Regions from separate parts of the Homo sapiens genome. Here region 2 is linked to region 1. The links come from fine-mapping of genetic effects on gene expression. A gene starts in region 1. The other region holds a variant in brackets. All regions are shown on one strand. Distances are between the middles of the regions.

Evidence for each region.
Region 2: its variant is fine-mapped to the expression of MFSD1 in whole blood (INTERVAL, PIP above 0.99).

What each region holds. Positions count from the first base shown.
Region 1 is chr3:158,792,805-158,806,684 of GRCh38, reverse strand. MFSD1 (major facilitator superfamily domain containing 1) reads right to left here and starts at 4,631. Exons shown (of 16, transcript NM_022736.4): 1 at 4,370-4,631; 2 at 2,314-2,366; 3 at 1,211-1,323. The coding sequence starts at 4,532.
Region 2 is chr3:158,816,521-158,832,840 of GRCh38, reverse strand. It overlaps MFSD1 (major facilitator superfamily domain containing 1), which reads right to left. Exons shown (of 16, transcript NM_022736.4): 8 at 13,094-13,192; 9 at 12,515-12,626; 10 at 11,188-11,244; 11 at 10,701-10,857; 12 at 9,316-9,413; 13 at 8,605-8,717; 14 at 6,779-6,826; 15 at 5,504-5,561; 16 at 3,125-3,862. The coding sequence ends at 3,859. Among named protein-coding and RNA genes, the nearest start is that of MFSD1, 23 kb to the right of the region's middle. The variant A/T (reference allele first, on the strand shown) is at 7,999.

The DNA.
Region 1 (13,880 bases):
ATAAAATTTCTATTAAGAGTTTAGGATTGATTCCAAGGAATTTTACAGTAAGTAATTTTAAGTGGTTATAATTCTTGATAACTAAAACCAATTTTTAAAAGGACAAACACCAACCATGTTATACAAATCTAACATCCTACAATCTGGACATCAGATTAATGTTGCCCTAGAATAATAAAATGCCAGTATTAGAAGAGTCCTTAAAGGCCATCAGGGTAAACCATACTTCTTAAACTTAAATCTCTCTCAAGATCCTTGTGAAATGACCATGCCATGTTCTACTGAATGTTCTCTAGCAATGTTCTCTAGCACTGGAAAACTTACTATGGTTCCAAGACAATTCTTGTCATCTCCTGCCAATCTGACCAAGCAAACTCCTCATATTAAAAGGAATCTGTTCCCCAGAAGTTTCAAGCTAATTCTCTCTCTTGAGATCAAAAAAAATAAATTTAATTCTTCCTTCATATTTTAACTCTTCAAAAATTTTAAAGGTTAGTCCCCAGGTGTAAACTCTTAAAGTTTCTTTAATCTTTATCCACCAGACATGGTTTGAAGACCTTTCATCATCTTGGTCTTTGCCTTCTGAAAATATTCCCAGTCTATATTCCTCTTCAGTTCCACTAACAACATACACACAATAATAAGGATGAACAGTGGCAAACCTTATAGTGTTATTCCCTGCTCAGCCTCTAACAGAAGTGGTCACAAAATGTTTTACACCCCAAGAAAAGCAGAAATAGAAAATCTCACCGGGGCTGGAGGAAGCACATACTACCTATGTGCCAAATACTGTACATCCATCTCTCACTTAATCCTCATAACCACCTTGCAAGGTAGGAATCATCTATATTTTGGCAATGAGAGAACTGAAGCTCAGGAAGCTGCAAACAGCTCAGAACAGCCAGGAAGATGAGAAAGTGGCAACGATAAGATTCAGAACCTGGTTTACCTGATCCCAAGGGTGAGTATAATTTTCCTATGGATAACTGAGTTACCTTATACCATCAGCATTTACTAGTCCTGACCTTAACTGAAATACCACGTTTCAAAAACCAACTCCAGAGATATAAAAATCATTTTTTTAAAAAACTCAAGCAAATTATTAGTTAATACAGAAGTTTATTCAGCTCTTTCTAGAAATACCTTAATCTAGCTCTGTATTTTTCTAACAATCAGGTAAGATTTACCCATAGTTTCTTTTCAAGCTTACCGTATTCCAAATACTCGGTCTATCAAAAAGCCACCAAAGAAACACAAAACTACATTGGGCCAAGAATACCAGGCATACAGCAGCATGAATTTCGTGGTATTCACTTGCATATCCTATATGAAAAGAAAATAAAACTATTTTTTTCCAAACAGTTAAGTTTAGCAACTAACAAATCAAAATATGACAATCTAAAGTGGAAAGTAGTTACATTCTTCTTTCTGTAAAGGGCAAGTTTTTTTTAACCATTTATAAGTCTCACTAACTTCCTTGAGAATCTCATGAAAGCTATGGCCCCTGGCCCAGGAAAATGGTCACACCTGGGAACCCTGGGAACTTCTTGAGTTCACATGCCATTTCAGGGGCTTCCTGGATTCCAGGATCAGACACCCTGCTACAGGGACCACTTCTGTCTGACTATAACTTCTATATACTACCTGCACTGGGGACTCTGCCCACATATACAAGGATAATCTTAGCCTATCCCTACCTACCCTACCCTCTCCATCCCCTCAAGCATGCTCCTCCTACTTCCTTTCTCTTTCATTCTAGAATGAAAAGGGTCAACCTATGCATTTTCCCTGTCCAAAGGTTAAAAAGAACCTACAAAGAAAAGAGACTAAATACCCAAAAAACTGTAAATATCAAGTATGTTCTTACAATACAAAACCAGACTAAAAATCCTGACATGGACAATCCTCTGCAATCAGTATCCACATTTAAAAAACAAAATAACAACTAAAACCTATTTAAGAAGGCAAAAAGCTATCTTAACAAATCATTTGTCATTCGGGTGACTAAGCACTGGGAGAGTGAAATGCAAACAAAAACCTGCTCATATTTTTGACAATACTGTGGAAATACCACATAATTATTTATCTAAGGTCTGAAACAATTTCAAGTCACATATGTGCTATAAATGAATTATTTGTGGTAACTCATTTCAACTTAAGAACACCCCTTGCAACTTGTGGATTTGGTGACTACAGATGTCAAAATAGATTCAGCGGACACGTGAGACTAGGGCACCTGAGGGTTGATAATGCCTCCACCGCTACACTTGCTCTAAAGAAAACAAAAGAAACAAGAGTGAAAAATCAACTTACTCGTTTAACTTGAGTCTGAAGGGCAGCAGGATTATCATAGCAAAAATAGCTGCCTAGAAAAGAGCAAATACTTTATAAGTAATAATACTTCCCATATAAAAGTTTCAAGTTGCAGTTGCTACTGAAATTACAATTTTAAATGCTGATACTACGGGTTGACACTACAGAAATATTTCTGAACCACTTCCTTATCCACCAGTATTTTCTAAGTTATATCAAATAACTTCCATAAATTGGTAGTGTTCATACACAGCAAATACTGGGAACCTGAATTAAAAAGTCAACAACCAACAATTAAATATTTTTCTATTTTACTTTCATCATGCTTCACACATATACTATTTTATTAATATCTTCATGAAGCATCTATATTTTATTTATTTCCTTATTTACAAACACACATACACTAAAAACTTTACAACCTCATCAGTTTCCTAATAATGTTAGCTTAAGGACAAAGGAATGGAGTGTAACCATTCTGACAAAACCAATATTTGAAACAAGTTCTCTAATTCTACAAACTACCCAAAATCAAATAATTTAGTGAATACAGGGCCAGGAGTGAAAAAAAAATGAAACTGAGAATTCTAAAGGATTAAATTAAAACATGTCTTTGGGGGAACTGGAAAGAGAGAAGTAGGGAGAGATCTGACCATGCACTCGGATTTATTTTAAAGATAAAATAATTGAGATTCCTTCGTAGGCTACAAGAAAATATTGCCTCCATAGCTCTACTAACTCTACAAGTGCACGAGGCTATTGGTTCTAATGACAATAAAAACTGTCATTAGAAAGGAATGAATCTGGCTTCTGAATTCTAGGCAGATAACCAGAATTTACCAAAAACTGTCTGTCTGCTTGAGTGGGGACCATTTTTTTTAATGTTTTATTGTTGTTCTTTCTTTGTTGTGGTGGTGGTTGTTTCTAAACCCTGCTTTAATCTCTTTTAAGGATTCAACGTCCTGCTTTAAAGCTAATGGATGGGCATCATCTTTTAAAAAACAGGGGAGGGGGGAAAAAGGAGTTGCAAGGAAACCAAAGCCCAAAGCATCCTTCATGTCTACTTATATGTTCAGCGCTAGAATAGTTATCCACCATAATGTTCTTAAACCTGCTGATTACACGGGCTCCAGCTAGCCTCCTGAAAAACACATTCATACCAAATTAATATTAGAATTTTGCTTAATAAATTAAAAACTGTAACATAGGAAGGAAAATTTTTTTCTAATTATCAAGAAACTGTTTTCGGAGACATCAGATTTCATAAGAGAAACCAACCACTGTCAAGACTACCACAAGTCCCGTCCAATATGATTGCTTCACAGTGGCAGAGTGGAAGATTAAGAGAACAATATCTATTCACTGAAGCTATCAGCAAGACACACTCATACATTTTCTCAAAGAGGGTGAAAAATATATAGAAGACTGCCGACGAAATCATTCACGTTTTTTAAAAGCTGGACAACATTGTAAGACCCTGTGTCTAAAAATAATAATAATAATAAAGCCGGGTGTGGTGGCGCCCCATCTGTGGTCCCAGCTACTCGGGAGGCTGAGGCGGGAGGATTGCTTGAACCCAGGAGGTGGAGGCTGCAGTAAGCCACTTTCACAACACTGCACTCCGGGCTGGGTGACAGAGCAAGCCCCTGTCTCACCTAAAACCAAACAAACAAAAGTTGTTTAGGAACAGTTAAAGCTTTCTGAATTTCCTCCGACCACGTGTGCCAAAAGAGGAACCTTGAAAATCTGGAGTTACCTTCATATCTATCGCCTCTAGGGCGAGTCGCTAGCCCCTGGGACTTACTGAAGAGCAAAGGAGTGCCACAAAACTCGCCCAGCTCAGTCCCTCGACCTCCACGTTCCGGACGCGGAGTAACTAGCAACATCCACAGGTGTGGCTGGAATCGATCGCAAAGGGGAAAATAAGGAGGCCCAGGAGCTTAAGACAGAAGCTGCGCTGAGGCCCCGTGGCACCAGTGACCACGATGACGATCTACCTCGAAGAGAAAGTCGGGAATTCCTTAAAGATCAGCCCCAACCCACCCGGCCGGCTCACCAAAGCCAAGGAAGCACATCAGTAACAGCACCAAAAGCCGGTGCGCCAGGCGACTGGGGTCGCAGAGGGCCGGCAGGGCTCCAGGGGCGGCCGGGGCACCTCTGTCGGCCTCGTCAGGGCCGCCTGCCAGGAGCGCCCGCGCTTCCTCATCCTCCTCCTCCATTGCGCCCGCAGGAGACGGAGAGGGGAAAGTGGTGACAACTCCAAACCCAGGCAGGAAGCAGCGCCCGTGGAACACTGTCAAGACGGCGGTCACATGACTCCGGGAGCTCACGTGACGCCCCGGCAGGTCACGCAGGGCCACGCCCATGTGAGCGGCCGCGAGCGCTGGGAGGACGGACCCAGCGGTCGATGACAGGGCCTGGCGCGGTTCGCTTTTCCTGGGTGACTGTGTTCGTGGGGCTGAGGCCCTCGAGGTGCCCACTTCCAGCTTTCCACCAATTACTGCACTGTCTTTCCGTTTCCTGCCCCGCTGACGCGTACACCTATTTCAGACTCAGCGCAGCTCCGCGGGGAGAAAAGTGCGGGGCTCCCTCTCGGCTCCACACCAGACTCCGGAGTAGTTCGAACTGCGCTGGGGTCGCCAAGACGCGCGCTGCCCTTCTCCCAGCACTGCCCTCCCCAGCGTCTTTGACCACTCTTAATACCCACAAACTTGATCGGACAATTTCTGGTGTGTCCAGCCATGTGTCACGTACTGGGAATACAAAATAGAATGAGGCAAGCTCCCTGACCTCAAAGATTTCAGAGTTCAGTTGGAGAAATCGACAGAATCTGGTACTTTTAAAACTAAACATGATGAATGAATGTGGTGAGAACAGCGGCAGAAAATGGCACTGAATTCCATAGAAATATCTGGAAAGGTCATTTCAAAAGGGGAGAAAAGGTGCGTAGTTTAGCCAGCTTTCAGGGCAAGGGAGTGAGGGGCGCTGAAGCTCCTTGAAGTTGAAACCCAGGCTAGAATGAGTAAGAATGCGCCAGTCAGGGTGCTTGTTTGAGCGGGTTGGTTGCAGGGCGGGCAGTTACGAGGGATAATAAAGACAAAAGCGTGAAACAGAACTGGGTGTGTATGTGTTTGTGTTGAACGACAGAGAAGGAACTCGAGTAGAAACACTAAACCTGTTTCAAGAAGAGCCATGCAAGGATTTTGAGCACAGCAGCAGGACTGCAAGCTTTGTGTTTTAAAAAACATTCGGTCTGCCAGCACAGCACCATCGTCGCTTTCTGGGAGCCCTCAGGCTTTACTAACAGAATTTTGAGGGCGTCAAAGCTAGAGGCTGAAAACTGTGAGGATTATTAGGAAGATGCTGCAGTCGTAACGATTAGAGATGACGAGGGCCTGTTAGCAATAAAAAGCAGGAATGGCACAGAAGAAAATCAGTAATTATTTAGGAGGTAAAATGGGAATAACTGTAAATAATAGCCTATGCGATCTGAAAGAGAGGAAAGACTTGAGAGTGTCTCCCAGATTTCTAGCTTGGGCCGCCAATAGAGATCAAAATTTAGAGAGAGAAGGAGGTAGGAGAGAGTGTCAAGGATCAGGTGCTGCCTTTGAGATGTCTATACATATCTCCACTTTCACAGTCCATTCTCTCTTCAGCTCCAGTGGAGGAGCTCCCGATCTAATAAAACTGTCTTGCCGAGAGGAGTAATAACTCCATCTTTCCAAATACATTAGTCACTTCTCTGTCATCTTACTCAACTTCTATCAATTGATGGAATTGACAGCCACTCCTTTTTAGCCTCCTTGGCACCATACTTGCCTTGTGTTCCTCCCACTTTGCTGGCCTATCTCATTTGCTGTCTCATTTGTCAGCTCCTCCTCTTCTATTCAAAATCTAGATGTTCAATGATGCAAGACCCATTCCTGAGCTCTCTTCCACTCATCCATTCCCATAACTTTAAATACCCTCCCTCTGCTGTCCAGTAGGTAGCCATGTGTGGCTGTTGATCATTTGTAATGTGGATAGTTGGAAAGGAGATGTGCAATACGTATAAAATACACACCAGATTTCAAAGACTTGTATGAAAAATAGAATAACCTCCTAATTTGAATACTGATTACATGTTGAAATAATATTTTGCAGATATTAGGTTAAATGTATATATATTAAAACTGGCCGGGCACAGTGACTCACGCCTGTAATCCCAGCACTTTGGGAGGCCGAGGTGGGTGGATCACCTGAGGTCAAGAGATCGAGACCATCCTGGCCAACATGGTGAAACCCCATCTCTACTAAAAATACAAAATTTAGCTGGGCGTAGTGGCACCCGCCTGTAGTCCCAGCTACTCAGGAGGCTGAGACAGGAGAATCACTTGAACCCGGGAGGCAGAGGTTGCAGTGAGCCGAGATCGCGCCACTGCACTCCAGCCTGGTGACAGAGGGAGACTCCATCTCAAAAAAAAAATTATATATATATAATTTTATTTTAGTTTATATATATATATGTGTGTGTGTAAACTAATTCCACCCATTTTTACTTTTTATGTGGCTGCTAGAAAATGTAAAATTACCTATGTGGCTTACATTGTATTTCTGTTTATCAGTGTGGATTTATATGCTGTTGCCTCTAAAATACCTTCATTCCAGACTCCTTTCTTCAGCCTAAGACTACCATTCCAACTGTTTATTTGATATCACGTGGATGATGTGGATGACTAATAGGCATCTCAAACTTATCACATTTAAAACAGAATCCTTGAGTTCTCTCACCCATGCTATACCTATTCCTCCCTAAGTGTTCCTTAGCAAAGTAAATGGGACATCTCTCTACCACTTGCTATCCGCAAGTCTAGCAGTCATCCTTGATGGCTTACTTCATCTCCTACATCTACTCCCTCAGCATGTCTTGTCAACTCTCTTCCAAAATATACCCTCATTGTGCATGTTCTCCATCACTACTCCTCTTACCAGAATGATCTCTCCCAGACAATCACAACAGACTCTTTAAATTGTTTTATTTTGCTTAATTTTGATGAGAGATACATCTGGTGTATATCATTCAAACAGTACCAAAGAGAATAAAGTTCAAAGCGAGTCTTTCCTGCCTCCCTATACCCAGTACTCTTGGGAAGTAATCATCATTATCAGATTATTTTGCATCCTTCCAGAGTTACTACACACAGTTGTTTTTCTTCCTTTCAGCCCAGCAGTGTGGCCTAGAAATTGTTCTTATTCTTGAGGACGATCTTGGAAACAGTCTGTTTGCCACACCATCCTAATCAAGCTTGTTACCAGATTTTTGGTCTTTGCAAATATGATCAGTGAAAATTTGCTATCATAGTGCAGTCTCAATTTATATTTCTATTATATTGAGGAATATTGAACCTCTTTTATGTGATTAACAGCCACTTATATTTGTTCTAGGAATAATCTTCATATCCTTTGCTTATTTTTCCAGATGAATTATTGAGGCTTTTTCTTATTGATTAAATAGGCTCTTTGTTGCTGATAGGAGCTGCATATATTTATTTTGACTCTGTTTACGGTAATATTTCCATATAGTTTCTAATGCCAAACTCTCTTTTTATTTTATAACTCCAGGGGTTTGCTTCTCACGCAAGATTTTCAACAGCCTCAATTGGTCTCTCTACTTCCGTTGTTGCATTTCTATGATATGTTGCCCGCACAACAATCAAAATGATCTTTTTAGTTAGTTTGGAGCTTTGGTTTGTCAAGGAATTATGAGTCAACCATCAATATTTGAACTAAAAGAAACAAAACTGGGCCAGGCACCGTGGTTCACACCTGGAAACCCAACACTCTGGGAGGCTGAGGTGGGGATATTGCTTATACTCAGGAATTGGAGACCAGCCTGGGCAACATGGCGAAACCTCATCTCTCCAAAAATACAAAACTTAGCCAGGTGTGGTGACATGCGCCTGTAGCCCCAGCTGAGGTGGGAGAATCACTTGAGCCCAGGAAATAGAAGCTGCAGTCAGCCGTGATTGCACCACTGCACTCCAGCCTGTGTGACATAGCAAGACCCTGCCTCAAAAAAAATAAAAATAAAAAAAAGCAACGAAACTGGATTTACTGTGTACTCTAATAAGGAAAAGCTATGCTGGGTCGGCACAGTCTCCCCAAGCAGAGCTGGCTGCTGATGCTCTATGGAGCTTTGGGGAATACAGAGTTCAGGAATAGGTGCATTTCAGAGGCAAAAGGGTTTGCCATCACCTGTAGAAGAGTAGATATTCTGGTAAGACTGTTATTAATTCTCCACTGAATTTATTGGAGTGAACCTGTCATTGGCTGACTTTGAGAAAGGAGGGGTTTTTCAAAACAAGTTTTACTGAGGCAGTTGATTAATTGAATGGGTTTAAAACTGGTTCTAGGAGTGTGGAAACTTGCTTTAATTCTCAGGGCTTCAAAAAATTATTATAGAAATGTGAAACCTACAGAAAAAAAAAAGGTAAAAAGGTAATGTACCCACCAAACTGAGCATCCAGAGAAGGACACAGGAAAGAGCTTTTTAGTCAGTGCCAACTCCCCTGTGCATGCCTGAGAACTTCTCCTTGGGGGCTTGCCCTTCCCAGGAGTTCAGGCTACCTGGTTACCTTGCAACCCAGCTGTGTCTGATGGTTTCAGTTAAGGTTGTGACTTTGTAGTTCATCTGAGTTTTTCTCATTATTGAGAAAGGAAAGATGTTCATTGCAGCTTTTCATATCCTAAGCACAAAAGAAGTCTTTCGTCTCAATTTTAACAGTACATTAATGGGGTATTACCCTTTTTCTCCCAGTTTCACAGTTGTCTTTTGTCTTTATGAAGTTTTTGGCTTATTTGTTTTGTCATGAAAAGGGTTTTTTTTAGAATATAGTCAAATTTATCAATTTTTTCTTTTATTGCATCTGGATTTTGAAACATAATTAGAAATCCTTTCCTTGTACCCAGGTTAAAGAAGAATTCACCCATTTTTTTTTCTAGTACTTGTATGGTTTCATTATTTAGATTTAGATTCCTGACCCATTTGGAGTTTATTCTTTTGCCTAGTATGAGGTATGGATCAAACTTTTTATCTTTTTCTAAATGGCTAACCAATTGTTAAGTCCATCTTTGTCCAAGTGATTTGAGATGCCACCTTTATTGCATACTAAATTCCCATATGTATTTGGGTTTACTTCTGGACTTTCTTTTCGGTTGTACTGCTCTTTCTTGTCATGCACAAGGACCACTGTTTTTATTTTAGAGGCCTTAGAATATGTTTTAGTGACTGGTAGATGTAGTCCCCTTTCATAGCTTTTATTTTTGTTTTCCTGGATATTCTTCCATATTTTTCCACCTGAAATTAGTATCAGCTTGCCTAGCTCCATAAGAAAACTGGTATTTTTTTAATGAACTTTGAAAATTAACTTAAGGAGACTTTAGTTTTTAATGTTAAGTCATCACATACAAAAAAAAAAAGTGGTGTTCCAGTTTTTCAAACTATTTCATGTCTTTTGAGAGTGTTTTAAAGTTTTCTTCATATATATTTTACAAATTTCTTGTTAAATTTATTATTCTTTGTTGCTTTTGTAAATGTAGTTTTCTCTACCTTTATGTCATGTTACTGATTATGTATGTGAAGGCTGTTGATTTATGTATGTTAAGTTTATGTCCTGCCAACTTATTGAATTCTTCTCTAGTTTGACTTAGTTTTGCTGTTAATTTTCTGTGATATTCCAGGTGTACTGTCATACCATCTGCAAAGACAAAGAGTTTTACTCACTCTTTTCTAGTTCTCCTGCCTTCAATTGATTTCTCTTTACTAACTGCAGTAGTGAGTATCTCCAGTTCAATGTTAAATGGCAGTGAAGATAGTGTACATTCTTCCCTTAGACCTGGGATAAATATTAAACAAACAGAAGAGAAAGGAATGCTCTTCCTTGTAATAGAAAGCCAATCAATACATGTAGAAGGAATGATGGAAATATAAAACCACTGTTTGCTAGGCATCATCATAATATCTGATCCAGGCAAGAATCAGTAGTTACTAAAATTAGTGGATAAAAGTTTGAAGTGTAAAGGATATATGCATAATCTCAAAGTAGCTCCTCACCAGAGATTTATTAATGACAAAGGAAAAAATAGTGCAGAAGCCTGGCCCACATACGTGAACCAAGTGATCATAGTTAATACTACCAGTATTGGAACAAAGTGACATTATGTGCCCCCAGATATGCACTGAAACTGAAAACACAAAACTCTGTGATTTACCTAACAAAAGCTCATCATACCTAAATCTCAGCATAAGGAAACATCAAACAAACCCAAATTGAAGGATATTATACAAAATAACTGGCCTGATTTCTCAGTGTCATAAAAGACTAAGGAACTGCCCTGATTAAAGAAGACTCCAGAGACATAACAGCTGAATGCAACACATGATCCAGGATTTCTTTGGCTATAGGGAACATTATTGGGACAGTTGACAAAATCTAAGTTCTGTAAGTAATTTGTATTCTGTCAGCATTTATTTTCTGATTTTGACTACTGGACTGTGGTTATAAAAGAAGGTACCTGTGGCCGGGCGTGGTGGCTCACTCCTGTAATCCCAGCACTTTGGGAGGCCAAGGAGGGCGGATGGATCACCTGAGGTCAGTTCAAGACCAGCCTGACCAACATGGAGAAACCCCATCTCTACCAAAAATACAAAATTAGCCGGGTGTGGAGGCGCATAGCTGTAATCCCAGCTACTCGGGAGGCTGAGGCAGGAGAATCGCTTCAAACCAGGAGGCGGAGGTTGCCGTGAGCTGAGATCAAGCCATTGCACCCCAGCCTGGGCAACAAGAGCAAAATTCAGAAAAGACGAAGACGAAGACGACGAAGACGAAGACGAAGAAGAAGAAGAGGAGGAGGAGGAGGAGGAACTTGTTTTTAGAAAACACATACTGAGATATTTAGAAGTCAAAGGACATGTACATATATTAGATATATATGTATATGGAGAGAGAATAAAACAAACATGGTAAAATGTTGCCATTTCAGGTGTCTGGGTAGAGGTATGTGGGAACTCTTTTTACTAGCCTTACAACTTTTCTGTAAATCTGAAACTATATACACCACACTTTGACCTCCTAAGAGTCTTGTGCATCTTTGTATCTCAAACATCTAGAACAGGGCCAGCTTGAAAACTGCTTAATAAGTGAATCCCTTAAATCAGGAGCACGTTACACCACCTAGTGGTGTAACAAAGGAAGCTTACTGCTGTGGAAAAACCTGTTCCTGTCCACAATGAACTTGCTCATTCTAACTGTGTTGACCTATTATTAGCCAAACAAATTGCACTTATTTTATAATTATCAAGTGATGGGAAAGTGAAAGCAATTTGGGGTGTAAGTATAGGCTTTATCATCTTGGACACAAGGTCACTAGACTGACCAGCCTGGTTTCACAGGTGTGGGGGTGGTTGCAGCCTCTGGAGCAAAGTTAGCCACACAGACAGAAAAGAGAATAGGGTAACTCCTAAAAATCCAAGTTCTGGATTCAGTCTTCATGTGCATTTACTTCCTACAACTCCTGAGTGCTGTGTGAGCCAAAACATTCTCTTTATCTTCATCCTTCATATTGGAAGCCAAGATGTAAACCCCTTCAATGCCTTCTTTTGTCTCCCCGGTCTACCCCCACCCCCACCTCTCCCCACCAGCAGTGCAGGTTTCTAGTATGGGACAAGAGAGGAGTGTCTGGTTCTGCTTGGGAGCCCAGAAGCAGTGAAAAATGAGCTTGATCTTGAAGAATGAAGAAGACTGGGAGTGGGGGTTGGAGGGGCAGAGTAAGGGCATTTCAGGCAAAAACAACATCATATACAAAGGCCTTAGAAAGAGATTCTGACTCTCTCAACTTCTATATTAGCTTCATCCAACTCTACATAGAAGATGTGCAAAGACAGCCTTTGAAGTCTGGTGAAAATAACTGCGTTGATTTGGATCATGGGATTAGACGTTGGTTTACTTCCATATAGTGACTCATGAAAAATAGTTTATGCTGACTTATGTAATCACAGGAATGAAAAGTTTTTGTATTATTATGTAAATGAAGTACCAATTTTAAAAGAAAAATATGTACTCTAGGAGTCTAAGGCTGTCCTTATATTTTAGAGCCTAACTGGCAAAACTAGTGGCCAAGATAGCAGGAAAGTGTCCACTGAGAGGTCTAGGGAGTTCATGTTCTCACTCCTAAGTGACTGCTAAAAAATGTGAACACATGGCCATAGAGAGTGGAATGATAGATGGTAGAGACTCAGAAGGGTGAAGGGTTGGGAGGGTGAATGTGAGAAATTCTGTACTGAGAAATTACTTAATGGGTACAATGTACATTATTTGGGTGATGAATACCCTTAAAAGCCCTGACTTGACCACTGCATGATCTATGCATGTAACAGAATTGCACCTGTACCCTATAAATGTTTACAAATTTAAATAAATGAATAATAGATCTGAAAGAATGTTTATGTGCTTAATAAATACTGCTTTTTATTGTACACTAGCCCCCGCCTTATCCTGGGGGAACACTTTCCAAGACTCCCCAGGTAGATGCCTGAAACCATGGAGTGTACCGAACTCCTATGTAAACTATGTTTTTTTTCCTATACATACATACCTATAATAAAGTTTAATTTATATATTAAACATAGTAAGAGATTAACAATAATAACTAATAATAACATAGAACAACTGTAATGATACACTGTAAAAAGAGTTATGTGAATGTGGCCTCTCTCCCAAATATTGTATTGTACATATTTTCTTATGTTGATGCAAGATGATACACTGCCTACATGATGAGATGAAGTGAGGTGAATGATGTAGTCATTGTGACAGCAATAAGCTACCATTGACCTTCTGTACTCCTGAATCCGTTTAACCATCCCTTACTTGCAGTAAATGGCTTGATGTCACTAGTTTTAGGGGATCCCTTGCTGAAGTCTTCATGTAGCTGAATGCTTTTTGGCCTAACATTGCCATCAATCAGAACACATTTTCTCTTCATGTCTTCCACCAATAAATGTAATACCTTTTCCATTTAACTAAGCACTTGGCACACAATGGATGGCCATAATTTTTGCAGTTTGAGATGCAACAGCAAAACTAGCATGAATTTCTTTTTTCTTCTTCACAATTTCACAAAGAGAAGATTCATTCTTATCATAGATCTTAGCAACCCCAGCATACGATTTTTTTTCTTTCCTTATTAAGTCGAAGACTTTCACCTTTTCACTTAAAGGAAACACTTTATGGCTTCTTTTTCACATATCCGAATTGCCATCATCTCTACTCTTGCACTTTGGAGGCATTTTTATTAAAATAAGGATTACTTGAACACAAGCACTACGATGCTGCAACAGTTGATCTGATAACTGAGACAGCTACCAAGTGACTCACTGGCGGGGAGTGTGGAAACAGTGGATGCACTGGGCAAAGGGATGATTTCATACTGGGAAATCATGATGATACGCGGTATGGCATGTAATTTAAAACGTATGAATTATTTGCTTCTGGAATTTTCCATTTCATTCTTCTGAACTGAGGTTGACT
Region 2 (16,320 bases), 25 kb before region 1:
TTGGAAAACTGAACAAGCCTCAATATTGGCGGGAGGGAGCAAGACTTGCAAGAAGTTAGCCCACACTTTCAGCTGTTTGGGATAACTCATTGACTTTTAGAAATTCCAGAGGGCATTCTGTTGCCCCTCCAGGGTGCTTCATTTACTTACCACAGTAATGTGAATGCAATCCAGGAAGGCCCAGCTTGCCCAACCCATCAACTACACAAGGTATGGAGAGATAAATTTGTAGATGTTTTAGGTCATCCACCAATACACATCTAACATATATTAGCCATATCCTTATGTCTCATAAATTAAGAATGAGAGTGCTATAGAAGGAACTCTAGTGATCTTCTATTTTGCTAATAAGAAAATGGAAACACAAAAGCTACTACGTGGTAAAACTTGGAAGACACACACCGAAGGTGATCCTCTTCAAAAAGACAAAATGACAAATGCCTACAAGTACATGATAATCTGAAATGAAATGCCCTGTAGGTCCACTGATTTGCATTACACAATAAATCTGCCAAATCTACAAGGGGAAGATCAGTTTTGGGAATACAGTGGATTACTGTAGCAGGCAGCTGCCAGAACCTGGAACTGATAAAGATCCACTGAAGAAAAGATATGTGCACAGGAATGCATGACCATATACACTAATATACTTGAGAGAAATAAATGTTAATAAGTTATACTAAGTTTGGCTGTCTGGCCTACACGATGTCAGGGCTTTTTAGTATTTCTTACAAAAACTCAAAGCTTTCTTCCATGAACTTTTTGGCAGCAAATCACTGCTGAAGGCTTACAACCAAATCCCCACTGGGGCACTCAGGAACACTCAAATGGAAGAGGGCAAAGGATATGAGGCTGCAGTTGAGGCCTTCCAGATATCATGAGCAGCATGCACACAAGTTGGAGCTGTTGTTTGCTACCAGTGAATACTAGGACTAAAAAATAAAGGCATTGTTTCGTTTATCCTTGACACCATTCTTTTCCATTTTGTCTCTGAAAATTCCCTTTACGTGCAATTTTATTCCTGGCAATGCAAATTTGATTTCTAACTCATGGCACTGTTGAACTCCCATCTTCACCCCCAGAGTTCTTTGAAAAACACTACCTGTTCCTTTCCTCCCTTCTGAACATTATCACTTTAAAACAGCAGGACTCAAACTTGCATTGAACTATATTCTTTGTGGGGTTTTTAAAACCTTCATTACACAATAAAGAGCTATTGTGAAAAAAAATCAGAAAACATAAATAAGCCAATAGAAATTCATCATTCAGAGACACTGGTGTACATATCATGCAGATATATTTGTTTTTATAAAAATGGCACCACTATGAATCTTCCGTGTGAAAATGTCATCAACATTATTCCATGTCAATATGTTCTCTAACAAAACCATTTAATGACTACTTAATATTTCACTTTAGGTATGTAATATGATGTACTTAACAAATCCCCTATTATTGTAAATTAGAGTGGCTTTCTATTATACTTTAGGCTATTATAAAATCTGGCAGTGAAGACGCTTTCTTAAAATATATTTACATGTATATTTGTCTGATGGTTTCTTTAGGACAAGTTATTAGAAATGGAATTGCTAAGCCAAAAGGCATTTAGCCCACCACCATCCCCCTTTTAGGTCTTTTTATTCATATTGCCAATTCATCCTCCAAAAGGGTTATTCTAATTTACTCTTTTTATATATCATTCAAAAAAATATTTATTTTGTGCCTACTTTTGCTAGGCACTATCAATATAATCATCGATAACAAAACGGACGCAGTCCCTGCCCTCAAGGAGCTTCCAATTTAAGGAAGAGAGAGACACCCACACCCACATTATCAGAGATTCTTCATTATTTTAAGTTGAGGTAAGCTAAAAAGGAAAACTGCAAGATCACAGCAACTTAGAAGAACCCAATACACCCTGAAGGATCTGGAAGAGCTTCCATGAGGAAGAATGGTTCTGGGCTGGGGGCTAAGGTTTTCTGGTATAAATCAGGTAAAAACAGGTTCTAGAGAGCCTTGGAGAAAACATTCTAAGCAAAGGGAACAGTGTGGACAAAGCCGCTGGGAGGGAAAGGAACACAACCCATTTGAAAACATGTAAGCAGCTCACTGTGGCTGGGGCACAGAGGCGGTGGAGAGACAAGGCAAGAGGCCAGGCCACATGGGCCTTCCAGCAGAAGTAGTGTGGACTTCCTGCACTCTCCCCCACTTGTGAGGTATTCAACACCCATGTGCTGAAACAGTCATATGGCGTCAGAGCCTAAAGAACTAACAACTCAATAATGACACATGTATTAGTCAGTTCTCACACTGCCATAAAGATACTACCTGAGACTGGGTAATTTGTAAATTACAGGGGTTTAACTGACTCACACTTCCATATGGCTGGGAGGCCTCAGGAAACTTAAAATCATGGAAGAAGGCAAAGGCGAAGCAAGGCACATCTTACATGGTGGTAGGAGAGAGAGAGAGAGTGTGAAGGGGAAGTGCCACACTTTTAAACCATGAGATCTCATGAGAATTCCCTCACTATCACAAGAACAGCATAGGAGAAACTGCCCCCATGATCCAGTCACCTCCCACCAGGTCCCTCCCTCAAACACATAGGGATTACAATTCGAGATGAGATTTGGGTAGGGACACAGAGACAAGTCATATCAACACAATAAACTGTAAGTCAGAAAAACAGATGTAAATAAAGCTGCCAAGCTACCTTGCATAAGGAACGTACTTTCAATCTGTTCCCAAACATTTACACTTACAATATCATGCCATGTGCTTTAAACAATATAATCAGCTAAATACATTGGTTTAATATCTTGTCTAAAATATCTGCATTCTTTGACTTTAACAAATAATATGTTAAGGCTGAAAAATATTAAAAAGTATTTAAAGTTTGTCAGAGAAGCTTCATACTCATATTTTACTTAATATAAAAAAAACCACATATGTTACTTAAAGTTCTACTCTGGAGAAAAAGCTACCCCCATAATCTTTCAGTGACTGTAATTGGGCAAGTTCTCTTTATTCTGACTTGGGTTTTCTTCTAGATAATCTTCTGCATGAATAAAAGTTAAAATCAGTGTTTTTGTATTTTTTAAAATCAAAAGAAGACATCAAGTACTCCGTGTGCAGTGTTTTAATTTATCCATGTACATAGGCAATTATCATAATTTGAAGGACACTTTTTACTTATTAGACTATAAGAAAAACTGTACAGAAAGTTTATACTATAAAATTACATCCCTAAGTGATTAGGGTCCTCAGTAACACAGAAATAAGAAATTGAAAAGGGTCATTGCTCGGCAATCCACATAACTACAGAGTAGAGCGCAAGCTATTGTTCGTGATCAGAAAGAGACTTCATAAAAACATCTTCACATATTCCCTAGCATTATGCCCTACTAGTAAAAGGAAGGCCTATGACAATGCCATTGTTTATTTTGTGTAACGCAGCCCTTCTATTTCCCTCAAAAGTTTTTTTTTCCTGCTATAAGATAAAGAAAAGGCTGTATCCCTAAGATATATACCTAATGAAGATTATCTCAACAGAAGCTCCAACGTTTTCCATTTTTCACTGTCTTTCCTGAAGTTCACCTGGATGTTCCACAGCAATTTTCTAACCCTTTCATTGTTGATTAGCCTACTAAAAGTAGAATTCTTTAGCAACACACAATACAAAAGACACAGGCTAAAACAGGCCTCACAAATACACTTTGAAATAGGTATATTTGGATATAAATATAACTTTCCAGTCCATTATTTTTTCTAATGACTAAACTCTAAATTTTTAAAAATGGAAGTTTTCAAACCAACGATGTGTTAAGCCCATTCTCATGACACATTCATTTTAACTTCTCATCTGCAAAACATAACGCAATAAATTACCAAAGAGGAAGAAAAAAACATGAAGCTCACCTGCCTTATAAAATGAAAACCAAGCATTACAAGACATGTAATAGCAAATACTAAGCTACACATTTTTTTTCTGAGCAATTTTTTAACTCTTCTTGATCCTAAAAGTCACAAAAGATCAATGTAGAAAATTTGAAAAATATTCTGAGTTTTTAATTAATATTCTGAGGTTTCAATTAATATGAGGTTATTTCTAGTAGTATATTTTCTATTATACATAAGTAATTGGGTTTAAAACAAGCATGTGACAGCATACTTTTTCTTGAATAAAATTAGGATATTATATTTGCATTTTTATCTTTTGTTTACTTAGCATACGGCATGTTAAGCATCTATGACATTAAAAATCCTTCTAAAACATGGTTTTAACAACATATCACATGGATGTGTCATGATATATTTAACCATTTTCCCTACTCTAAGACATTTATGTTGTTTCCAAACTTTTAACATAATATGACTATCATAAAGATATTCAAAACTCATACTTCTGATTATTTTAAGATGTATTTGTTAAAAGTGAATTTAATATGACCAAAACCACCCCCATCTCAAAAAAACAGACTGTTCTACCAGATTTTAACCTAGTCAAAAGTCACAACAATTACAATCACATGGTATATATATTTACAAATAAATGTTTAAAATCATAAAAACTTCAATGTCTAAAAATATTAGAAATAACAGGAAACAGAATCACTATTATGTTTCAGTACATACTTTTAGAAAAAGAAATGTTAACTTAATCACCATGCTATATACTTAAATCTCTTCCAAATGAATCAGAGAACACAGAACCACATATTGGTACCAGAAGAAGATGAAAAATTATCAACTACTTAAGAAAAAGAAAATATCTGAGAGAATGGAAGGGTAAGCCCAGTCCAGGACCTCAGGACGAAGGCCTTTCCTCCAATAAATTACAAGTAATATAGATCGATCTCTGTCTCTCTCTCTCTCTCTCTCTCTCTCTCTCTCTCCCCCTCTCTCTCTCTCTCTCTCTCTCTCTCCCCCTCTCTCTCTCTCTGTGTCTCTCTCTGTCTCACAGAGAACAACTTAAATTGAATTATTTTTTTTCTTCGTTTCAAGCCTTAATATCCATTTTTAAATTTTCTGAAGCAAACAAGAATGTTGTTATAATAGTTCCACACACATAATAGCTAGCTCTCAAAACTCAAGGAAAACTAATCTCTTAGAAGTTCAAAGCCCAGGCCAGGCGCAGTGGCTCACATCTGTAATCCCAGCACTTTGGGAGGCCGATGCAGGCAGATCACTTGAGCCCAGGAGTTCTAGACCAGCCTGGGCAACATGGCAAAACCCCATCTCTACTAAAAATACAAAAAATTAGCCAGACATGTTGACACACAACTGTAGTCCCAGCTACTTGGGAGGCTGAGATGGGAGGATTGCCTGAGCTGAGGAAGTTGAGGCTTCAGTGAGCTGTGACCATGCCACTACACTCCAGCCTGGACGACAAGCATGGGAATCAAAAAAAAAAAAAAAAACTTCAAAGCCCAAACCTTGAAACGAAATGCTCATATTTAAGATTTCAAAAATAAAGACAACTTTTTACCCTTTTAATACTTACTCAGTATGGGAAAATTTTATTTCTTCCCTTTGTCTTGCAGAATAATTTAGGTTCCCACCTAAAACACAAATAAACATAGATCTTTTCCATATAAGTATTATCAGTAAGTAAATTTCAACCATACATACATACATGCAACCATTTGCATAGATACACTGTATTTTAAGTAATAGAAAAAGCTATCGACGATGAAAAAGTAATGGTTTATCTACTGGAACCTTCCCAAAGGGAAAAAATGAAATTCTTGTGTGATATAAATAATCACCCCTTAATTTAAGCATTTTTTTAAGTTTGGACTTATGTATTGCTTCAAGTGTTGTTACTTAGGACACTGTATTAATATTCAATAATAGTGAAAATTAAGAGAAATTAAAGGAAATGAACAGGTGTGGTAGCTCACGCCTGTAAATCCCAGGCTAAGGCGGGAGGATTGCTTGAGCTCAGGAGTTTGAAACCAGCCTGGGCAACATAGGGGGACCCCATATCTAGAAAAAATTTTAAAATTAGCTGGCTGTGGTGGCATACACCTATAGTCCCAGCTGTTTGGGAGGCTAAAGTGGGAGGATCACTTGATCCTGGGAGGTTGAGGCTGCAGTGAGCTGGGATCGCACCACTGCACTCCAGCCTGGGTGACAGAGTGAGACTCTGTCAAAGAAAAAAAGAAAAGAAAAAAAAAACTATTAAAATAAAAAAAAAAGGAAATGACCTGAAATTATTTACACAGCATATATATTATATTCTACTAAATATATAAAACTCTTTAGGAGCAAGCAGTTAGAAAAATTACTAATGACAACATCAAAATCTTATCAAGAACAACAACAAAAATCCACTAATGCATACAGTACGAATTAGCAAAAGAAAAAAAATCTGTAATTTCTAATTCTAAACCAAACATCTTGAACCTTAAAATGTAAATTATAGCTATAAATTTGCTTAGTTCTGATTTCTTTTAACGTAGGACAATAACACAGAGGGGCTTTAGGTTACTTTTTAAATGCTATATTTCTTTATGTTAATATAAAAATAACATCTAAGATTTTATATTATTAAGAAACTCATCTGGCTAGATTTTAAAAAATGACAGCAATCTTAATAAATATGAAGGCCCAGAAAACATAATTATATATTACATAATCAAATGTGTTTCCATCATTATGAACAGAAAGTCATTACTGCATGGAATAAAGCACTGGCCCCCAAAGAGGCAGACCCAGAGACCCCACAAGATGATCCACTGCGGTTTAAGAAGCAAATATCAGATCTTCTACTTACCCTGGGCACGATTCACCAAATAGAGTAAGACCACAGATAAAAGTGACACTAGGAGTGAAAAAACATAGGGCCCTTAAAATATGTATTTCTTCTCAATGATTCCTATGTAATCATAATCACAAAGCAAAGCTTAGACACAATCAAACCTTTATTAATTGCTATTTTAAATAAAAATATTATTCCCATTATTTTATTTTCCAAAAGCACTAAAAATAAGTTACACACTATTTTCTCCAAGGGCTACTCAGCCCAGGGGTGGCAGGCCAGAAACAAAGAAGTTGAGGCCCCTAGAAAAAAGGGAGCCGACCCAGCCACAGCCCAGCCCTGCCCCTCTTTCCTCTCCCTTTCTCAGTGCTGGTCCTTTGCAGGACTTACCAAAAACTCCTGCCAGCCCCCGATTGTTTATCATTTCAGAGGAAGCCAAATAGTAGTCTTTTGGGGGCTTTAAGTCTGAAAATGCCATGTCCATTTTACAAATTTCAAGTAACCAAACATTAAAATGTGATCATTAGACTCAAATCAATCAAGACCTCAAAATTCAAGTTTTCCCTTGGCTTTTTCCTTTAATAAGTGAAGAACACTGTTTAATTTACTTTAAAATAATAGGGCAGGCCTATTATCTTATTATTTTGATTCATGCCTGTAATCCCAAAGGCAGGAGGAGCGCTTGAGGCCAGGAGTTCAAGTCCAGCCTGGGCAACACAGTGAGACAGCATCTTCACAAAAAAATTTAAAAACCAGCCAAGCATGGTGGTGCACACCTGTAGTCTTAGCTATCACGGAGGCTGAGGTGGGAGGATCACCTGAACTCCGCAGTTCAAAGTTACATTGAGCTGTGACTGCTCCACTGCATTCCAGTCTGGGTGACAGAGACAAATCCTGTCTCTAAAAAAGTAATAATAATAAAATAAAATAACAGAAAAACATATTCAAACGGCACACTGTTTGCTTTGAGACCCAAATACATGTTGAACTGTGGACTGACATTTAACCACATGCTGCAACAACAAAAATAGACAAAAAACATTTTATGATTTAATGTCTGAAATTCTTATATGACCCACTTTTTTAAACATTTATTTTTAAAACTTGACGTCCTTGTTTCTAAAACAAGCACGTTTATTTATGAGATAATAAAATGCACTCAAGGCAACTCATAAGCAATTATCTGCAAATACCACACTTCAGGTATGGATGGTCTTTATTCCCTATAAATGAAA[A/T]CAAAGTTTGATAAAATCATCACTGTGGTTTGTCATTTTAAGCACAATATTGAACTATAAAAGACATCTTGATGTGTTAAGGAGAATTTTCTTTTCAGATAAACACAATTTATATGTAGGGTAAAGATTACCTATGGACAAATGCTATTATTTTTATATATTTTTCAAGTTTCCTAATGCTTCCAATTTCAAACCAATGAAATTACAGGTAAAAACTAAATTACGGACTAAAAATAAAAATCAGTTAAAACTGCCTAATGAATAACCATGAGTACTCACACCTAAATCACACCAACGTTTCCACATAGTCACATTAAGGATATACTCAGGACTCTTCAAATTGTTCCACTTTAAGTGGGAAAATGCTTTTTTTTTTTAAACTGTAAATAGTTAAAACAGAATATGAAACCAACTCAATCACTGCCTTTAAGGATAGGAATCTCCTAAAAAATGCCTGTGAATCTTCAGAGGGCTAGAAAGTCACCAGCTATGAAATTCTAATTCACAGGTGAGAATTAGGCAAATCTGGGAGCTATGCCTAAGTAAAAATAAGAACATTCTGTTATGTAGTAAAAGAAACAAAATGTTGTCATACGGAATACTCACAAGAAACACAGGCAATGAAGAACACTTCCAAAAACAAATACCCCCGAGAATCCAGTATCATACCAGCAATGATGGAAATGATGGCCAACCCAAGATTCTGAATGGACTGCATGCTACAATGGAAGAAATATAAAGACACATTTCATTTTCAAAAGTCTTCACACATAGGCTAACACTTCACTATAAATATTAGTATCTGTGAACCATATACTATTTGTGTTCAGAGATGTTTTCCACCAGGGATGACTTGATTAGATTTTGGATTGGTTTTTATCCCATAACTATTTCCACTACTAGACTGCTCAAAGGTAAGGGAGCTTGTCTCATTAAGTGCAATGTGGATTCAATACCTTTGTGCTGAATGAAAGAAGGGCCATGTGAATATCAACCACAGGTGCGGTTTCCCCCCTCTGCCTTTCTGTGCCAGGAACTGGACTCAGCTTCTCACTAAGAAGCCTCACATAAACAGGCAGGGAGATTATAATGTCAGCAAGGACCTCTTCTGGGTTAGCTTACTCCAGCCCTCTTGCTGGAGGCTCTTTTGTGGCCACAACAGTATCTTAAATAGATTTACTGACTTTTCCAGTTATCTCCAGGTTCAGCGCTACCCCAGAGGCTGGATGACGACTAGATTCAGATCTGGAGTTTTATATGATAATTAAATTGACATAGCAGAGACAGACATATACGATCCACAGCGTAAATACTTACAAGCCATATGCAGTTCCCAGCTGATGTTCAGGAACTACAAATGCCACCATTGGCCACAATGCACAGGCAAGCAATGAGTAGGAGAGTCCCAGAAGACACTACAGAAAGCAACGCAGAAAAGGTCACAGTCTTACATTAACCAAAAGGTGATTTTCCTTTAATGCAGATTAGCAAAAGTGACAGAGTAGTTAATATATATATATTCAAGCAAATTTTGTTGTTATTAGGCTAAAATTCGTATTCAAAATATACAAAACAAGTCTCTGCCCTAAGAGTATCCTTTTAGCGACAAGATACATGCTGTCTTAACCATTTTCATTTGTCATCATATTATATGCATATGTAACTGGCTGGGGCCCAAGATGCAGTCAAGGACCAAGTAAGAAAATAAAGGTAATTTTTAAAAAGTTCTTACCAATGTTTCAGGCAAGCTAATTTTCCAGTATTTATTAGGAGTTACAGATTAGGCAATCAAGGCAATATCATGCCAACAGTCCATCATCCTACGTCTGAGCCACCAATACCCAGTAATCACCACCAATGCTTGGTAAACCTCACCTAATGCTGATTTTTTCTTCAATTAAAAAAGAAATATTGTGATTTAAATTTAAATGAGTATCACTTATAACTATCAGATTGGCAAAGATTAAAACAATGACAATGCCCAATACTAGCAAGGATACTAAAAAAAGTCACATTGTATATTACTAAAGTTATAAATGGGTAGAAAGTTATCGGAGAAAGTTTCACAATCTCAACCAAGATGTTAAATACGCAAACCCACTGCTGTAGCATCTCTACTTCTAGGAGTCTGTACTGTATCTGTTGAAACACTTCTAGAGAAATGCCCACTCACTGCACAAATATTTATGTTCCAGATATTCCTTTATTAACAGGTAGGAAATGCAGCACTAGAGCCTCGGGTCTTAAAAATGATGTTTTGAACAACAATAACAAAAACTTGAATTCATTATCACTTTTTAACCTACTAAGCAAGTCAAAGAAAAAGAAGAGTTACTGGTCCAACAGATTTTTGGTTTTTTGCCATCTATGATGGAATGCCTTCTTTTAAGTCACCTATTTTAGAAAAACAAATGGGACTAATAAGCATTCTGGCTTTTATAAGGCTACTTTATTTCAAATTCTCTTTCAGCACTGAAGTTAACTGGTTAAATAAATCAAATGAAATTAAAAGATACCTTATATGTTAATAATTCATAATTATACTTTAAAAAATAATTATTTTGTAGATATTGGAATCAAGTTGTCATCTCCCCACTATCATAGGCCTTGTCATCTGAATTTGCTGAGCGTGCCTACTTAGATGAACATGACAGACTCCTTGCTGAAGCCCTGACCCCACCATGGGCTAACACAGACGTTACCATAGCAATCCAAGGGTTCCACATCGTAAAGGCCAGCATCATGTGGGACACAAGAGTGGCTGCTACTGCGCAAAGAACCCAGATGATGTTCTTCCCTGTTTTATCCACCAGGAGCCCAAACACCGGGGACATGGGAGCTGATATGACATATACAACACTGCCCAGAGAACACATAAGACATTTCATGAAATGCAACACAGTCAAACATCAGTTTCAAGAAAGTCTTGAAAATATCAGGCAAAGCAAATCCTAACTCATTTAACATTCTTATAAAATGCTCATCAAAAAATATAAAAAGCAGTTCAAGACTTCTTTGGTTTTCCACTAATTTAAACACAGCCACTCAGGATTCAAGTCCCAATGTAGTCCCAGTTTCGCACTTAAAAAATATTAGGTCACATACATCTTTTTTGCTTCTTTTAACATTTGATTATAAAGACCCATACTTCACATGCAATAGGCACTTACAAAATTAATTTTAAAATACCTGTTAATTGCACTTGCTGCCTGGGAAGAAAATCCAAATTTCTCTGTAAAGAAAACTCTAAAATTAAAAAGACAGAGAAATTAGCACATTAGAGAGAACTACTCTGTTTTCAAAAAATAAAGTTGAATAAAAATAACTCAAGTTTAATCAGCTTCTTTCTTGATATTATTCTCCCACCTTATTTATATTCACCTTCAGGCAATCTGCTAAAGCTTCAGTATTTATATTAATGTTTACTGACTAAATGACATATGATGCATATTTTTTTCCTTTTCTGGTATGCAGTAAGGAATACACACAAATTTTCAGAAAATCAAATATACTACCACAGGGACTTAAGGCTGCTTCTTTTCCTTAAAAGCAGTACTGAATGGGTTCTTTGCTAAATAATAAACAGGGTTCTTGTCTGAAACTATTTAAAAGGACAGCCTGAACTCAAAGGGTATAAACCATACCCTTACACAAACACACTTACATTGCGCTGCTTAAGCAGCTGCCAATGAAAAAGGAGAGAGAAGTAGAAGATAAAGCAAAGAAGAATTTGCTTTGAACCCAGAATTTAAGTCTGGCAGAATTACAGTCCTAATCAATGGAGATGTTCCCAGGCACAGTGCACCAATAAACAGTCTCCATTCTCAGTAAGAGCCTTTCTAACCAAGGAATAAAGAGGGAATGAAAAAGAATACTAGTCTAAAATCAACTATTAAATCAATATTATGAATCAAAAATTATTAGGTATTGACATGGTTTGGCTGTGTCCCCATCCAAAGCTCATCTTGAATTGTAATCCCCGTAATCCCCACCTGTCATGGAAGTGACCCTGTAGAAGGTAATTGAATCATGGGAGTGGTTTCCCCCAAGCTGTTCTCGTGATAGTGAGTGAGTTCTCACGAGATTTGATGATTTTATAAGCAGCTGGCATTTCCCCTGCTGGCACTCATTTCTCTCTCCTGCCACCATGTGAATGAAGAATGTTTGCTTCCCTTTCTGCCATGGTTATAAGTTTCCTGAGGCCTTCCCAGCCCTATGGAACTGTGAGTCAATTAAATCTTTTTCCTTTATAAATTACCCTATCTGGGGCAGTTTTTTATTAGCAGCATGAGAGTGGAGTAATACAGGTATTTCTTCAAAAGAATAATAAAAGTATAAAACCAATACTAAACCTTAAGCTAAAAGAAAATGTATATCCCAGGATCTAAAGTAATTCCTGTGAAAATATAAACTATAACCAGAGAAGCAAGATTTACTGCTTTAAAAACTACATTTATGTGATTGAACTCTCATGATAATTTAGACAAGAAATAATGGAAACATAGAGAATACTCACTTCCCAAGTCCAATAAAAGGGAACACAGCAACATAATAGCAGACACAGATGATAAATATAAGCCACAGGGGTAAGGAGAAGTCCTTTACATCAGTTAATTTAATAACTTCACCTTAGAGAAGAAAGGGAAGACACTATCAGCATAATTTTGCATACCTAAGGAGCTTTCATCTATAGTCAAGATTATTTTTTAAAATCTTGTGATTAATCTTTGCAATTCAACTTAAAAAAATACTTTTCTAGTAAATTACACAAACATCATTTCTGGGATAACTTACAAAGACATAAGAAAAAGCAAAACCTAAGACTAAGACTGGCATCTACCTTTCCTGCTCCTTTCCAAGAATAACCATTTTGCAAATATACAATCGAGAATGTAAATTCTGCCAAAAGATTTAAGGGGAAAAGAAAATACATCTAAAAATTTAGAAAAGTGGAAATCAATTTGGAAATAAAAAATAAAAATCATGTCTTAAGCTCCACCTGGTTTTACAACACTTCATTAGGAACTTAGATCTCATTATAAAATCTCACAAAGGCCGTAATTCCCCTAAGTCCCATTCTTTCATTTAGACTTACCTGTTTTTCCTTGTTCTTTATGAAGGATTCTCTCTGCTCTCTGATCCAAGTAGGCAAGAGCCAAGGCACAGATTAGTGAAAGAATACACGTTATACCCCCTAAATAAAAAAAAAAAAAAAAGAAAAACAGACTTTGAAAAGAGAACCAAACAGAAGGTTCCTAAGGAGAAGTACATTACATAAACAGCAAAAACAGCAACTGAAAGGGATGTCACATAAAGACACGAGAAAAATCTGCAATTACTAAATCGGGACAAAAGAGGAAGAGTACATTCAAATACTCAGCAAACAGTAGTAGCTTTTACTGCATTATTTCACAGTTCAAAGTTAAAGATTAAAAGGAAAAGACTAGAAAAAACTAGTCTAGTCCTGTAATGCAGAATACAGACTGAAGAAAACTGATGAGCAGCTACTGATGTAGTCCTCATTTCTTCATTCAGTCTAAGCACCAATTGTCAATGGACACCAGGGAAAAAATGATGAAGCCAAGTTAGGCTCTTCATCTCTCTTCCTTCCGATGTTTTCCCAGAGTCCACGGCCTTCGCTCCTGCCCTCTGGCAGCCCAAGTGCCCCATCCTCCCAAAGCGCAGTACTCTCAAGCTCTTTCCTGTGAGATCAGCATTTCTCTCTAATACCAATCTCATATCACTACAGAAAATCAGGATAAAGAGTGAATAACGATACACTTCTCAGGAAGAATTTCCAAAAGAAGCTTAATAAAATAAATGAATCTTTAATTCACTGCCCTACCACAGCCCGGTTGAAAATTCGCTGAAATGAGCATCAGTAGACGTGAGCTCTAACGAGCTGAATCACCTTGGACATGGAACACAAGCTCTCTTGGATTCAATTTCCCCAGTTTTAAATAAGAGGATTTGACCTGATGATGGCACAGGTCTTTTCTGGCTCTAAAAGTCTTACTCTAAAATTTCCCATTGTGGAGGAAATTAGATGGAATACTAAGAAGCTTTTAAGAGTAAAAAGGAGGTTTTAAGTAAGGCAAAGGATTTGAGAGGGAGAGTTTGAAAGAATCTTTAAATATGCTTGCCTGCTTAGGATTACCACTCCACTGTCTTCTTTTACCAGGCTGTATCGACCAAGGAATTATAAGGAATAAAACACAGAAAGACAAATACTATGCATATGTGGAATAAAATATATATATATATTTTAAAAACCTGATCTTATAGAAGTAGTGAGTAGATCAGTGGTTTAATTAGAGACTGGGGAGGAGATTGGAGAAAGGAAGACAGGTAGACATTAATCAAGGGGTACAAAGTTACAATTAGGAGGAGTAAATTCTGGTGTTCTATTGCACAGCAGGATGACTATGGTTAACAGTAAGGGATTATACATTAAAAAATAGCTAGAAGAGAGGGTTTTGAGTGTTGTCACTACAAAAAAGTGATAGACGCATGAGGTGATGGATATGCTACATACTCTGATTTGATTGTTACACAATGTATCTGTGTATGGAAACATCAAATTGTACCCATAAATATGTATAATTATGTGTCAATTTAAAAATTAGGGAAAAAGGGAATAAAAGATGTGCACATCTTGGGCACAGAACTTTCACCCTATCATCACACAGGTCTCTCTACAGCCCTGCAAACAGCCAAATGCACACCACAGGGTTCAGTTAGACAAACTGCCTGCCCAGAGAAAAAGCAAAAGTGGTAAACCCAGAAGGCTTCGTGCCCTTCCCAGTGACCCACCCAGCAACTAGCACCATGGAGCCATAGCTAAGAGAACTTAGGGACAGTAGTGACCTATATAGTCTTGTTGAAACAACTGTAATTATATTATAATAGGATCCAAATTGAACAGGAGATAATTTCCTTAAAAGACACTACAAGAAAAAGAAATTGAACAGGAGGTAATTTCCTTAAAAGACACTACAAGACGTCAGGTAGCGTGATGCCTCCAGCTTTGTTCTTTTGGCTTAGGATTGACTTGGCGATGCGGGCTCTTTTTTCGTTCCATACGAACTTTAAAGTAGTTTTTTCCAATTCTGTGAAGAAAGTCATTGGTAGCTTGATGGGGATGGCATTGAATCTATAAACTACCTTGGGCAGTATGGCCATTTTCATGATATTGATTCTTCCTACCCATGAGCATGGAACGTTCTTCCATTTGTTTGTATCCTCTTTTATTTTATTGAGCAGTGGTTTGTAGTTCTCCTTGAAGAGGTTCTTCACATCCCTTGTAAGTTGGATTCCTAAGTATTTTATTCTCTTTGAAGCAATTGTGAATGGGAGTTCACTCATGATTTGGCTCTCTGTTTGTCTGTTATTGGTGTATAAGAATGCTTGAAATTTTTATACATTGATTTTGTATCCTGAGACTTTGCTGAAGTTGCTTATCAGCTTAAGGAGATTTTGGGCTGAGACAATGGGGTTTTCTAGATATACAATCATGTTGTCTGCAAACAGGGACAATTTGACTTCCTCTTTTCCTAATTGAATACCCTTTATTTCCTTCTCCTGCCTAATTGCCCTGGCCAGCACTTCCAACACTATGTTGAATAGGAGTGGTGAGAGAGGGCATCCCTGTCTTGTGCCAGTTTTCAAAGGGAATGCTTCCAGTTTTTGCCCATTCAGTATGATATTGGCTGTGGGTTTGCTATAGATAGCTCTTATTATTTTGAGACACGTCCCATCATGCTACCTGACTTCAAACTATACTACAAGGCTACAGTAACCAAAACAGCATGGTACTGGTACCAAAACAGAGATATAGATCAATGGAACAGAATAGAGCCCTCAGAAATAATGCAGCATATCTACAACTATCTGATCTTTGACAAACCTGAGAAAAACAAGCAATGGGGAAAGGATTCCCTATTTAATAAATGGTGCTGGGAAAACTGGCTAGCCATATGTAGAAAGCTGAAACTGGATCCCTTCCTTACCCCTGATACAAAAATTAATTCAAGATGGATTAAAGACTTAAACGTTAGACCTAAAACCATAAAAACCCTCGAAGAAAACCTAGGCATTACCATTCAGGACATAGGCATGGGCAAGGACTTCATGTCTAAAACACCAAAAGCAATGGCAACAAAAGCCAAAATTGACAAATGGGATCTCATTAAACTAAAGAGCTTCTGCACAGCAAAAGAAACTACCATCAGAGTGAACAGGCAACCTACAAAATGGGAGAAAATTTTCGCAACCTACTCATCTGACAAAGGGCTAATATCCAGAATCTACAATGAACTCAAA